2 separate regions of the Homo sapiens genome follow, and region 2 is linked to region 1. A link means that fine-mapping ties the variant in region 1 to the expression of a gene that starts in the linked region. Tissue or cell type: whole blood. Region 1 holds a variant in brackets; the other region holds the start of a gene. All regions are shown on one strand. Distances are from middle to middle.

The links. PIP is the estimated chance that this variant, and not a neighbour inherited with it, causes the effect.
Region 2: LITAF starts here. The variant in region 1 is fine-mapped to the expression of LITAF in whole blood (TOPMed, PIP above 0.99). The same link has a PIP of 0.9 or more in blood mononuclear cells and monocytes.

Annotation. Positions count from the first base shown.
Region 1 is chr16:11,611,769-11,617,026 of GRCh38, forward strand. It overlaps a transcript of LITAF not described here. Among named protein-coding and RNA genes, the nearest start is that of LITAF, 27 kb to the left of the region's middle. RefSeq lists enhancers at 2,008-2,057, 2,025-2,319, 2,218-2,427, 2,563-3,170, 3,171-3,778 and a silencer at 3,242-3,415. The variant G/A (reference allele first, on the strand shown) is at 2,171.
Region 2 is chr16:11,584,115-11,589,594 of GRCh38, forward strand. It overlaps LITAF (lipopolysaccharide induced TNF factor), which reads right to left and starts at 2,805. Exons shown (of 4, transcript NM_001136472.2): 1 at 2,772-2,805. RefSeq lists an enhancer at 1,559-1,668 and silencers at 2,569-2,648, 2,679-3,158.

The DNA of each region.
Region 1 (5,258 bases):
TCTCCTGCCTCAGCCTCCTGAGTAGCTGGGATTACAGGTGTGCGCCACCATGCCTGGATAGTTTTTTTGTATTTTTAGTAGAAACAGGGTTTCACCATGTTGTCCAGGCTGGTCTCAAACTCCTGACCTCAGGTGATTCGCCCACCTCGGCCTCCCAAAGTGCTGGGATGACAGGTGTGAGCCGCTGCGCCTGGCCCTCCCATTTCGACTGTTGTGGGGTCCCACAGGATATGGAGTGTGACAACAACCCCCATCCAACGCAACTTAATGGCTTCCTTCTTCCTTCTTCCCCTCGGGGCTCGGAAATCACCACTCGCCTGGCAAAGAGGGTTATGTGGGTGCCCACACAGCCATGTCACTGAGAGGGTGGAAACAGGGTCTCAAAGTCCAAGGATCTCCTGGCACTGCCCACACCGCCAAAGCTCAGGACAGCCAACCATGTGCCAGGTTTGCTCAGCCCAGATCTAAAACGGGGGTCTCTCCAGTGAGTCAGACCAGGTCATTTCCCAGCCCAGGGACTCTGTGACTCCTGGGAGCCGCAGCAGGCTTTGGCTGCACCGTCCTCATCATTCTTGTGAAAAGGGGCCACCTGGGGGGCAGCCTGGAGGGTTGGTGAAGAGGTGTCTCCCTCCCTGGCTTGGCCTGGGCTCTCTGGAAGGCAGGTGAAGAATGAGGAAGGAAGGGCCTTATTGGGCAACTCCCAGCAGGTTTCTGTGGGAACGGCTGTCTGACCTCGTGTGGGTCACCTGCGGTTAGAGCAAACTGCACTGCATGCGGCCAGCGGGCGGCCAGGGCCGGCCCAGCTCAGGACGCTCACGTGCACAGAGAACCTGGATGGAAAGTTAACAAGGCCCAGGCAGGAGCCCTCGCAGAGACAGCAGACCTTCCCACCCCACTCCCAGCCCAGAACTGGCCACCCACTTCCCCACCCCATTCTCCCCTGACATCTCTGTTTGTCCACGTCCTTGAGAAGGGCGGAGGGACGAGGACAGACTGAAAAGAGATGTTTGGAGGATGAGTCCGCCCTCTTGGGGAATGATTTCACTGTGGAACCAAGCTTGGTTACACCAGAAGCTCTTGGGCACCATCTCAGGGACTCCCATGGCTCCTGAAGACTTGTGGGAACCCTGTGTCCCCCTAGAATCTTGACCTCCCAACCCTGCAAAAGCTGTCATCTTGGGGCACAGCCGATGGCCTGGGTGCCTCTTGATGGGCAAGGCCAGCCATTCAGGTGCTTCACTCTAGGTTTTTCTTTGGATTTTTTTTTATTTGTTTTTTGGGGTTTGTTTTAGATGGAGTTTCGCTCTGTTGCCCAGGCTGGAGTGCAGTGGTACAATGTCGACTCACTGTAACCTCCATCTCCTGGGTTCAAGCGATTCTCCTGCCTCATCCTCCCGAGTAGCTGGGACTACAGGCACCTACCACCACGCCTGGCTAGTTTTTGTATTTTTAGTAGAGATGGGGTTTCACCATGTTGACCAGGCTGGTCTCGAACGCCTGACCTCAAGATCACTCTAGTTTTTGTTTCCACTTCTGGATCCCCATGGGATGGAGAGAGACGGGACACTCGCATTGACAGAGAGACCAGACCTCCTGGGTCACCTGGGGGAATAAGCAATGCAGCCAGCTGCCAGGTCCCAGGGCTGCCTTCTCCTGACCATCTGGGCAATTCAGACACAGCTGGGTCTGAGGTGCCAGAGTGTGTTGTTCCGCCTGTTTAGACCTGCCCCACCTCGAAGACATCGGTGATTCACAATCTTCCCTAGAACGGACAACTCCTGGAGGGTGGGGCCCCTGCTGATTCAAACTGGGCTCCTATGAAAGCTCCCAGAGGGTGAGGGCAGTCAGGGAAGGCTTCCAGGAGGAAGTGGCTCTTGTTGAAGGCTAAGCCAGAGTTAGGTGGGAGAGGAGCAGGAAAGGTGTCCTTACAGGGAGCACAGCCGGACGGAGGGTGTGGCGTGTGCCGGCTAGGCAGTTCACACTGGTGGAACCGAGGGCACAGAGGTGGCTGGGGCAAAGCCCAGACAGAAAGGACATCTCAGAAATGAGGATCTGTACTCCGAGAGCCGGCCTCACCCTGCCACATGTTGTCAGATGACCGGGCGGGCCACTTCTCTCGCTGAATGTTTATTTCCTTATCTCTAAAACGGAACTGACAGTTGAGATCAAC[G/A]CCTGTGTTCTGTGGGGTCCCTCTGCTTCCTGGCAGGTCCTGAGATTTGGACACTTGCACATGACTCATTCATTCCCAGCAACACCAGTCAACAGTGGAGCCGTTGTGCCCATTGTACAGACGGGGCAGCTGAGGCTTGTGCAGGCTCAGAAGGATGTCCTAGTCTCTCTCACTCTCCTTTCTCCCTCCTACGGATGCTGTGACAAATGACCACAAACTAGGTGGCTTAAAACAACAGAAACTGATTGTCACAGTTCTGGAGGCTAGAAGTCTGAAATCAAGATGTCAGCGGGCTGGTCCTTCTGGAGGCCTTCTCCTTCTCCTTCTCCTTCTTCTTTCCTCTTCTTTCTTTTTCTTTTCTTTTTTTTTTTTTTTTCTTGAGACAGAGTCTCACTCTGTCACCCAGGCTGGAGTGCAGTGGCACAATCTTGGCTCACTGCAACCTCCACCTCCCAGGTTCAAGCAATTTTCCTGCCTCAGCCTCCCAAGTAGCTGGGATTATAGGCACACACCACCAGGCCCGGCTAATTTTTGTATTTTTAGTAGAGATGGGGTTTCACCATGTTGGCCAGGCTGGTCTCGAACTCCTGACCTCAAGTGACCTGCCTGCCTTGGCCTCCCAAAGTGCTGGGATTACAGGCATGAGCCACTGTGCCCAGGCTTTTTCTGGTTTTTTTTTAAGATGGGGTCTTACTCTGTCACCCAGACTGGAATGCAATGGCACAACTTCAGCTCACTGCAACCTCCACCTCCAGGGCTCGAGATCCTCCCATCTTGGCCTTCCAGAGTGCTGGAATCACAAGTATGAATCAGTGTGCCCGGACTGTTTTCACCTTTCAGCTGTTACAAATATCTTCTTACTTCCTCTGATATGCCTACTAGAAAATTTAAACTTGCCCAGTGGCATGCATTACCCTGCAGCTGGACCAGCTCTGTTCTAGACGGCAGGCAGTTCTAACGGCAGGGAGTCAGTTCAGTGATTGTCATGACAGCGAATGCATGGCTTCCAGGACCCTGTGGCCCGCTGTCAGATGGGGCCGGGTCTGAGTGCCTCACTCACAGCTGCTTCTCCAGCACCCAGCCCAGCAGCTGGCACGGGGTGGATGACCAGTCGGTACACACTGGGAGAATGAATGAATGAACAAAGGAAGGAAGGAGAGACCAAGCTGGGGCTCTAGGAGAAAACGAGGCAGGAAAGTCCCAGGGGACAGTGGCTGAGGAAAGAACAGAGATCCCAGGAAGAAAAGCGACACCCAGAGCCCCATCTACCCTGGGGTGTAAATGGCATGGGCAACAACTCAGAGGAAAAGTAAAGACCTTGGGTGCGGTGGCTCACGCCTGTAATCCCAGCACCTTGGGAGGCTGAGGCAGGTGGATCACCTGAGGTCAGGAGTTCAAGACCAGCCTGGTCAACATGGCGAAACCCCGTCTCTACTAAAAATACAAAAATTAGCCTGGCATGGTGGTGCATGCCTGTAATCCCACCTACTCAGGAGGCTGAGGCAGGAGAATCGCTTGAACCTGGGAGGTGGAGGTTGCGGTGAGCCGAGATCACACCATTGCACTGCAGCCGGGGCAAAAAGAGTGAAACTCCGTCTCAATAAATAAATAAATAGCCAGGTGTGGTGGTGCATGCCTGTAATCCCAGCTACTCAGGAGGTGGAGGTTGCAGTGAACCGAGATTGCACCACTGCACTCCAGCCTGGGAGACAGAGTGAGACTATGTCTTTAAAAATAAATAAATAACTAAAATAAAATAATAAAAAAAGAAAAGTGAAGACCTATGTGGTATAATAAAAAGTATCTGCTTGGTCTTTGTTCCCTGTCACTGGTTCCTGGCACAGAGCTGCCAAAGCCCTTGGACCCTCCTCAGTGATTAGAGTATCTTTCGTATGCTAATGGGATGACTCAAGATGACTCAGTGTGGGGGTACCTAGATAGCTTTGGAATGCTTAGAGGGTTAGAAGGTTCAGTTCACCCACTCCTCACCTCTGGGGAGGGGAGAGGGACTAGGAGTTGGGTCCAATCACCAATGGCCATGATTTAATCAATTATGCCTACGTCACGAAACCTTGATAAGAACCACTAGATAGGTTTCTGGGAGCGTTCAGGTTGCCAAATACATCCACTACCTGGGAGGTGGGGCACCCCAACTCCACGGGGACAGTGGCCCTACATTCAGGGCCCTTCCAGACCCCACCCTATGCTCCTGTGCATCTGGCTGTTTGTATCTTTTATAATAAACTGGAATAGTGCTGGACACCGTGGCTCCCACCTGGAATCCCAATGTTTTGGGAGGCTGAAGCAGGCAGATCCCTTGAAGCCAGGGATTTGAGACCAGCCTGGGCAACATGGCAAGACCCCATCTCTAAAAAAATTTTTTATTAAATTAGCCAGGCATGGTAGCACGTGACTGTGTTCCCAGCTACTCAGAAGGCTGAGGTGGGAGGATTGCTTGAGGCTAGGAGGTTGAGGCTGCAGTGAGCTACGATTGTGCCACTGCACTCCAGCCATGGGTGACAGGGTGAGACCCTGTCTCAACAAAACAAAACAAGAAAAAAAAAAAGAAAAAGAAAGGGGCTTATGATGAATAACAAAAGATGTACCTCTCATCTTTGCCACTCAGGAAATTACGAGGACCTTAGAAGCTCTGTCAGGTACGTGAGGCAAAGACCAAATACATATTTCCTATTGTATCACAATATCACAGGCTACCCTCTGGCCTTTGAACACAAATCCCTTACAGTCAGATGATCATAAACATCAAAAGATGCCCGGAGTGGGCAACATAGGAAGACCCCATCTCTACAAAAATTCTTAAAAATTTACCGGGCATAGTGGTGCACACGTGTGGTCCCAACTACTCAGGAGGCTGAGGCAGGAGGATCACCTGAGCCCAAGAGGTTGAGGCTGCAGTGAGCTGTGACTGAGCTACTTAACTCCAACCTGGGAAAGAGAGCAAGACTCTATCTCAAAAAAAAAAAAAAAAAAAAGATGCCAGCAGGGCGCAGTGGCTCACATCTGTAATCCCAACACTTTGGGAGGCCGAGGCAGGCAGATCACCTGAGGTCAGGAGTTCGAGACCAGC
Region 2 (5,480 bases), 28 kb before region 1:
GGGTGGCCAAACAGACCCGGGAGACGTCAAAAATATGTGTGCTAAAGAAACACAGAACTAAGGAAGTCTATTTACCTGATAGACCGCCTCACCCACGGGGCTATTTTCACTGCTGTAAAAGCGAAAACAAATAGAGGACAAGTCACAGTGCCAAGAATACAGGACTTCCTCTTGCAGATCCTCTTTTTTCCACCCTCACTGTAGCTCTGGGGAAATTCCTATTCAGTGGGAGAAGTTTAAGTCACAAAACGGCACCAGCCCATTCTCAAAGTGCTATTATACACCTCTGAGCAGTGAGGATGGGTAATGTCAGCAAAATATGCACTGTTTATTTTCTTGAAAATTAACTTGGGCTGGAAACGCCTTCCAGCTCCTTCCTCTCAGTGGATTTTCCATTTACTGTCTTCAACCACCTGGGCTTGTCTGTACCTCTTCCACAGCTCTACTGAGACCCTCCTGTTTGTCTGAACTATGTCCTCATGTTCCTTCTGCCACATGTGCTCAGGCCTCAGTTTTTCCATGAAACTTTCTCTAACTTAGCTGCCTCCTTTCCACTGTTCTCAAGCCCTTTCTGGAGTTACAAGGGCATTAGCAAGCACCAGCTTTTTCGCCGGTGTGTGTTTCTACTTTCTACCCATTGCGTAAACCCCTCAGGACCAGGAGCCATTCTTCTGCATCCTTTACACGGCAAGGGTAGCGCTTTATTTCTCAACAGCCCGCCCATAAAAGGAACGGAAGTAACAAAGGGAAATGTATTCCCCAAAGACAGTGAATTACACTTCAATCTACTATTTTAGAGACTTAAGAAATGGGCCGGGTGAGGTAGTTCACACCTGTAATCCCAGCATTTTGGGAGGCCAAGGCAGGTGGATCACTAGAGGTCAGAAGTTCGAAAACAGCCTGGCCAACATGGCAAAACTCTGTCTCTACTAAAAATGCAAAAATTACCTAAGCATGGTGGCACCCAACTGTAATCCCCGCTACTTGGGAGGTTGAGACACTAGAATTGCTTGAACTCAGGCAGGGGGTTGAGGTGGGGTGGGGAGGGTTAGAGGTTGCAGTGAGCCGAGATCGCACCACTGCACTCCAGCCTAGGCGACAGTGAGACTCTGTCTCAAAAAAAAAAAAAAAAAAGAAAGAAATTGATCCTACGTCTTAGATCAATCACCCAGTCACTTAATCTGTGAAAACATTACAAGATACTTTCTCAAATGTGAATAAATGCATCAATTATTCATGCCTTAAAGTAACAGGAAAGAGGGAGATGGGCCTCCCTCATGGTAGATTACAATTAAATGTTTCTTAGAGAGTTTGGTGCACATTTAGTTCCCAGAGCAAGGGCTGGTGGAGAAGAAAGCCAAGTGCAATATGGGTGTTACTCTATGCCAGGTAAAGCAAGTCACACGCCATCTAGATCCTGCTCCAACTGATAAAACCAAAACACTGGTGGAATTCCAGATACCAGCCTGCACTTCTCTCTGTAGGCATCTGGGTTAGTCCTAAATAGGAAGTCCTAAAAAGAGTCACTCTGAGAAGGCAGGGGGTGAGAGGGCAGATGAAGCAGCCAAGCACACATTAAGGCAAATCATGGCTTTCCTAAAGAGGACCCCAAGCTGGGCTTCAGACAGTCTTTGAACCAGCACCAGTGCACCAGGCCAAGGGGAGGGAGGCATCCTCTTTGGGAAGACTGGTAGGAGCTTGGAAGACCCCGTGGCTTCCACAAACTGTAGATTTCCCAGTGACCACTGCTCAGTCCAACAGCCAGTGACATCAGCTCCACTGTCGGGAAGTAGAAAACCAGTGAAGGTCCAACTAGCCTGGTCCCTGAAGCATGACTGGCCCTTCCAGAACATACACCTTTCCCCTATCACCTCCTCTCCCTGACCCCGAAGAGCTTCGGGCACACCACCAACTGACCACCTATCCACAGTGACCTGCAAACCAGAGCGGGGAGGGTATTTGCCTAGCTTGGCAGGGAGGGGCGAGATCCACTTCTGCCACCAGTCACCAGCTGGTCCCACCAGCACCTACCCAGCACCGGCGGTGGACGGTGAGCGGCGTCTGGGCCCAGAGCTGGGTGCCATCAGCAGTAAGAGGACCCCTGCGCTCGCGGGGTGCCCGCCTTACCCCGCGGGGAGGGGTCAGGCCTAGGGGCCACGGCCCGCTTCGCTCTCTGATTTTCACCTCCCCAGGGTCTCCCAGGGGCCTCGGGTGTCCTTCCCGGATCTTGCGCGAAGTCGCGGGGGCAGGGAGAGAAACGCGGGTACCCGCGCCCCTAGAAGTCAAATGTTTGGCAAATAGCATTTGGGAATTCGTTGGGGTTTTTTTGTTTGTTTTGGTTTTGTTTCTGAACCCCCGGGGGATATTTCTGGAAATCTCAACCTGAGTCACTAGAGAGAATCGCGCCTTTTTCTAAAAAGCCCAGGGGCCGTCCTCTCCGGGGAGGGGGACGCGGCGGGCCGCGAAGGGCGCTCGTTCGGGTGGGGGCCGGACGACCCCGCCACGCGCGATCGGGCCACTCTGGGACGCAGGAGCTGAACCCAACCGGAGACGCGGCCGGGACCAGCGCTGGGAGGCCGGACCCCGCCCCGGCCGGGCCCCCACGCCCTCCGCCGCGCCTCGATGCCCGCGACCCGACCCGCGCCCCCTGGCATCCCAGGAGGCCCCAGCCAAGGGCTCAGTGCCCGGGGCCCCCAGCAGGTGCTGGCGCCACCGGCCCCCCGCTGTCTCCCGCTGGTCCCCGCGCCCCGGCGTCCCCGCGCCGCACTCACCGCCGCCCGCGCCGCCTGTCGAGCCGGGAGGTCTGAGCTGGCCTCTCGGGCGCCCCGAGAAAAGGGCCGGGCGGCGGGGACGGGGGCGGGGGCTGGACCCGCCGGGGCGGAGCGCGGCCGGCTTGGGCTTCCGGCTTCTCCCGCCCCCGCGGCCCGCACCTGGGCCCCAGGCGAGACCACCGCCGGTTCCCCGCCTCACTCTGATCGCCCCCAGGCTCCATCCCACACCCGGCTCGCTCGCCACCCCAGAGCTTCCCAGGCTTACCCCCGAGACGCCTGGCGCGGACCTGGTGTCTCCCCCACTCTCCTATCCTGCCCCTGCCTCTCGGTGCCAGCCCCACCCGTCCGCCCCCGACAGCCTGGCCCTCCCTCCTGATTTGCCGCTCGCGGCTCTCCCCACTTTCCCCCCTCCCCGCGCCGCTCCACCACTTCCAGGCGGCGGGACCACCAACCTCGACCCCGGACCCGCGCTGGGGCGCTCCCGGCCCTCTGGAGGGCGGCCCTTCTCTTCCTGTAACTCTACAGACGCGTCCGGACAGACCAAGACACTCTCTGTGCCTTCGGGCATGTTACCCATCCTCTCTGAGCTCGGCTTCCTGTCTGCAAAATGGGCACAATAGCGGTCCTGTCTCCTAAGACCGACTGGGAGTGAACTGGGAAGATGGTAAAGTTTTTAGCACAGGATAGGTATTAGGTAAGGCTTATCAGCTGCCTGTCCGCTTTGTGCCCCCAGGGTGGTCCGTGCCGCCAGGTAGGCCTTTCTCAGCCATCACTGAAAGCAAGCTCTGGAAATCAGTAGCCCCATTTCACATCCGCCCCTAAATGGGTGCCATCTGCCCGTCTGCTTGGAGCCCCATCGGCCGGCTGCAGTGATAACAGCAGCAGCCTGGATCCAGCAGGCTCTCTGGGAAATCATTAGAGGGAATTAAGAAGCATGCCTGGCTTTCAGAGTACACAGAGTCAGGAGATGGGCAGAACCATGATGTGGCCATCCACAAACAAACGCCATTTGGACAGGGAGCTTCCGAGCCCCATGCTGGCAAAGACCTGGATCTTAGAACCCTCCGGTGCCCAAATCCCATGCCTTTACCCGAGGTCCTAAAGATAGTGAGGCCCAGATAGGGAGTGTGGCTTGTCCCGGGTCCCTCAGCAAAGTGTCCCCAGCCCCAAGTTCTTGCCACCTTGCGCCATGTCCACTGACGGGCCACCCTCAGCCGTGGACGAGTTACCAAGTTGGAAGGGATTTCAAAGTTCTCCCAAGCATAGGAGGTTCCCATGTAGATGTTATTAGTGTGGGCAACATTTTACTGCTTTTAAAATATGAAGGGGGCGGGTGCAGTGGCTCTTGCCTATAGTCTCAGGACTTTGGGAGGCCATGGCCAGAGGATCTCTTGAGCCCAGGAGTTCAAGGCCAGGCTGGACAACATAGTGAGACTCCATCTCTATAAAAATTTTTTTAATTAAAAGAATAATAATAAAGCGGTGGAGTGGTGGCATGTGCCAGCTACTCAGGAGGCTGAGGTGGGAGGATTCCTTGACCTCCGGAGGTTGAGGCTGTAGTGAGCTATAATCGAGCCACTGCACTGTAGCAAGCAAGCAACAAAGAAAGAAAGAGGGAAAGAGGGAAAAGAGAAAGAAAAAAAAAAGAAAGAAAAAGAAGAAAGAAAGAGAAAGAAAGAAAGGGAAAAGAAAGAGAAGGAAAGAAGGAAGGGAGGGAGGGAGGGAGAAGAGAAGAACAGGAAATTGGATTACACCCAACCTCTGCCATTCCTCCATTCTCAGGATGCAACCAAGGCTTGCAAAGGTACCAATTATTATACTGACATTAAGACAGAATATCACAGACCATTGCTAGGGAGACATAACACCTAGGGAAAATCTCTCAGAGATAACGTTCAAGAAACATCCCTGTATGAATGCTTTTCTTCCTTCCTTCCTTTCTGTCTCTCCCTCCCTCCCAACCTTTTCTCCTTCCTTCCTTCCTTCCTTCCTCCCTTCCTCCTTTCCTCCCTTCCTCGCTTCCTCCCTTCCTTCCTGTAAAAAGCAGTAGTAAGCCTGAATTTTCTTCTGTCCTTTACTGAATACTACCACATCTTCATTTGTTTTTCTTTCCCCAACTGCTGAGCAGCAACAGGAGCCAGCTTTGTGTTTTTATCCATCCTAAACACTTACCACGGCTGTGAGCTTGCAATTATTTATGGGGAGAGCTATAAGACTGTAACTCTTTTCTTTGATCCCCAAAAAACCACAGAGATTGAATTTCCAACCCAAGGCTTCCAACCAGGGGGTAAAAGTAAACTGGGCCACGTGATCATCTCAATAGACGGAAAAAGCATTTGAAGAAATCCAATAATGCTTTCATGATTAAAAAAATAATAATAAACTAGAAATAGAAGGGAACTTCCTCAACCTTAGGGCTTCTATGAAAATCCCAGAGCTAATGACACACTTAATGGTAAAAGACTGGAAGTTTTACCCCTAAGAACAGGAACAAGCCAAAGTGCCCACTCTGGCCACCTCTGTCCAACATTGTCCTGGAGGTTCTGGCCATTGCCATTAGGCAAGAAAAATAAAAGCATCCAGATTGAAAAGGATAAAGTGAAGCTATCTCTATTCACAGGTGATATGATCCTATATGTAAGAACCCTAAAGAATGTACTAAATACCTATTAGAGCTAATAAACCAGTTCAGCAAAGTTGTGGGATTTA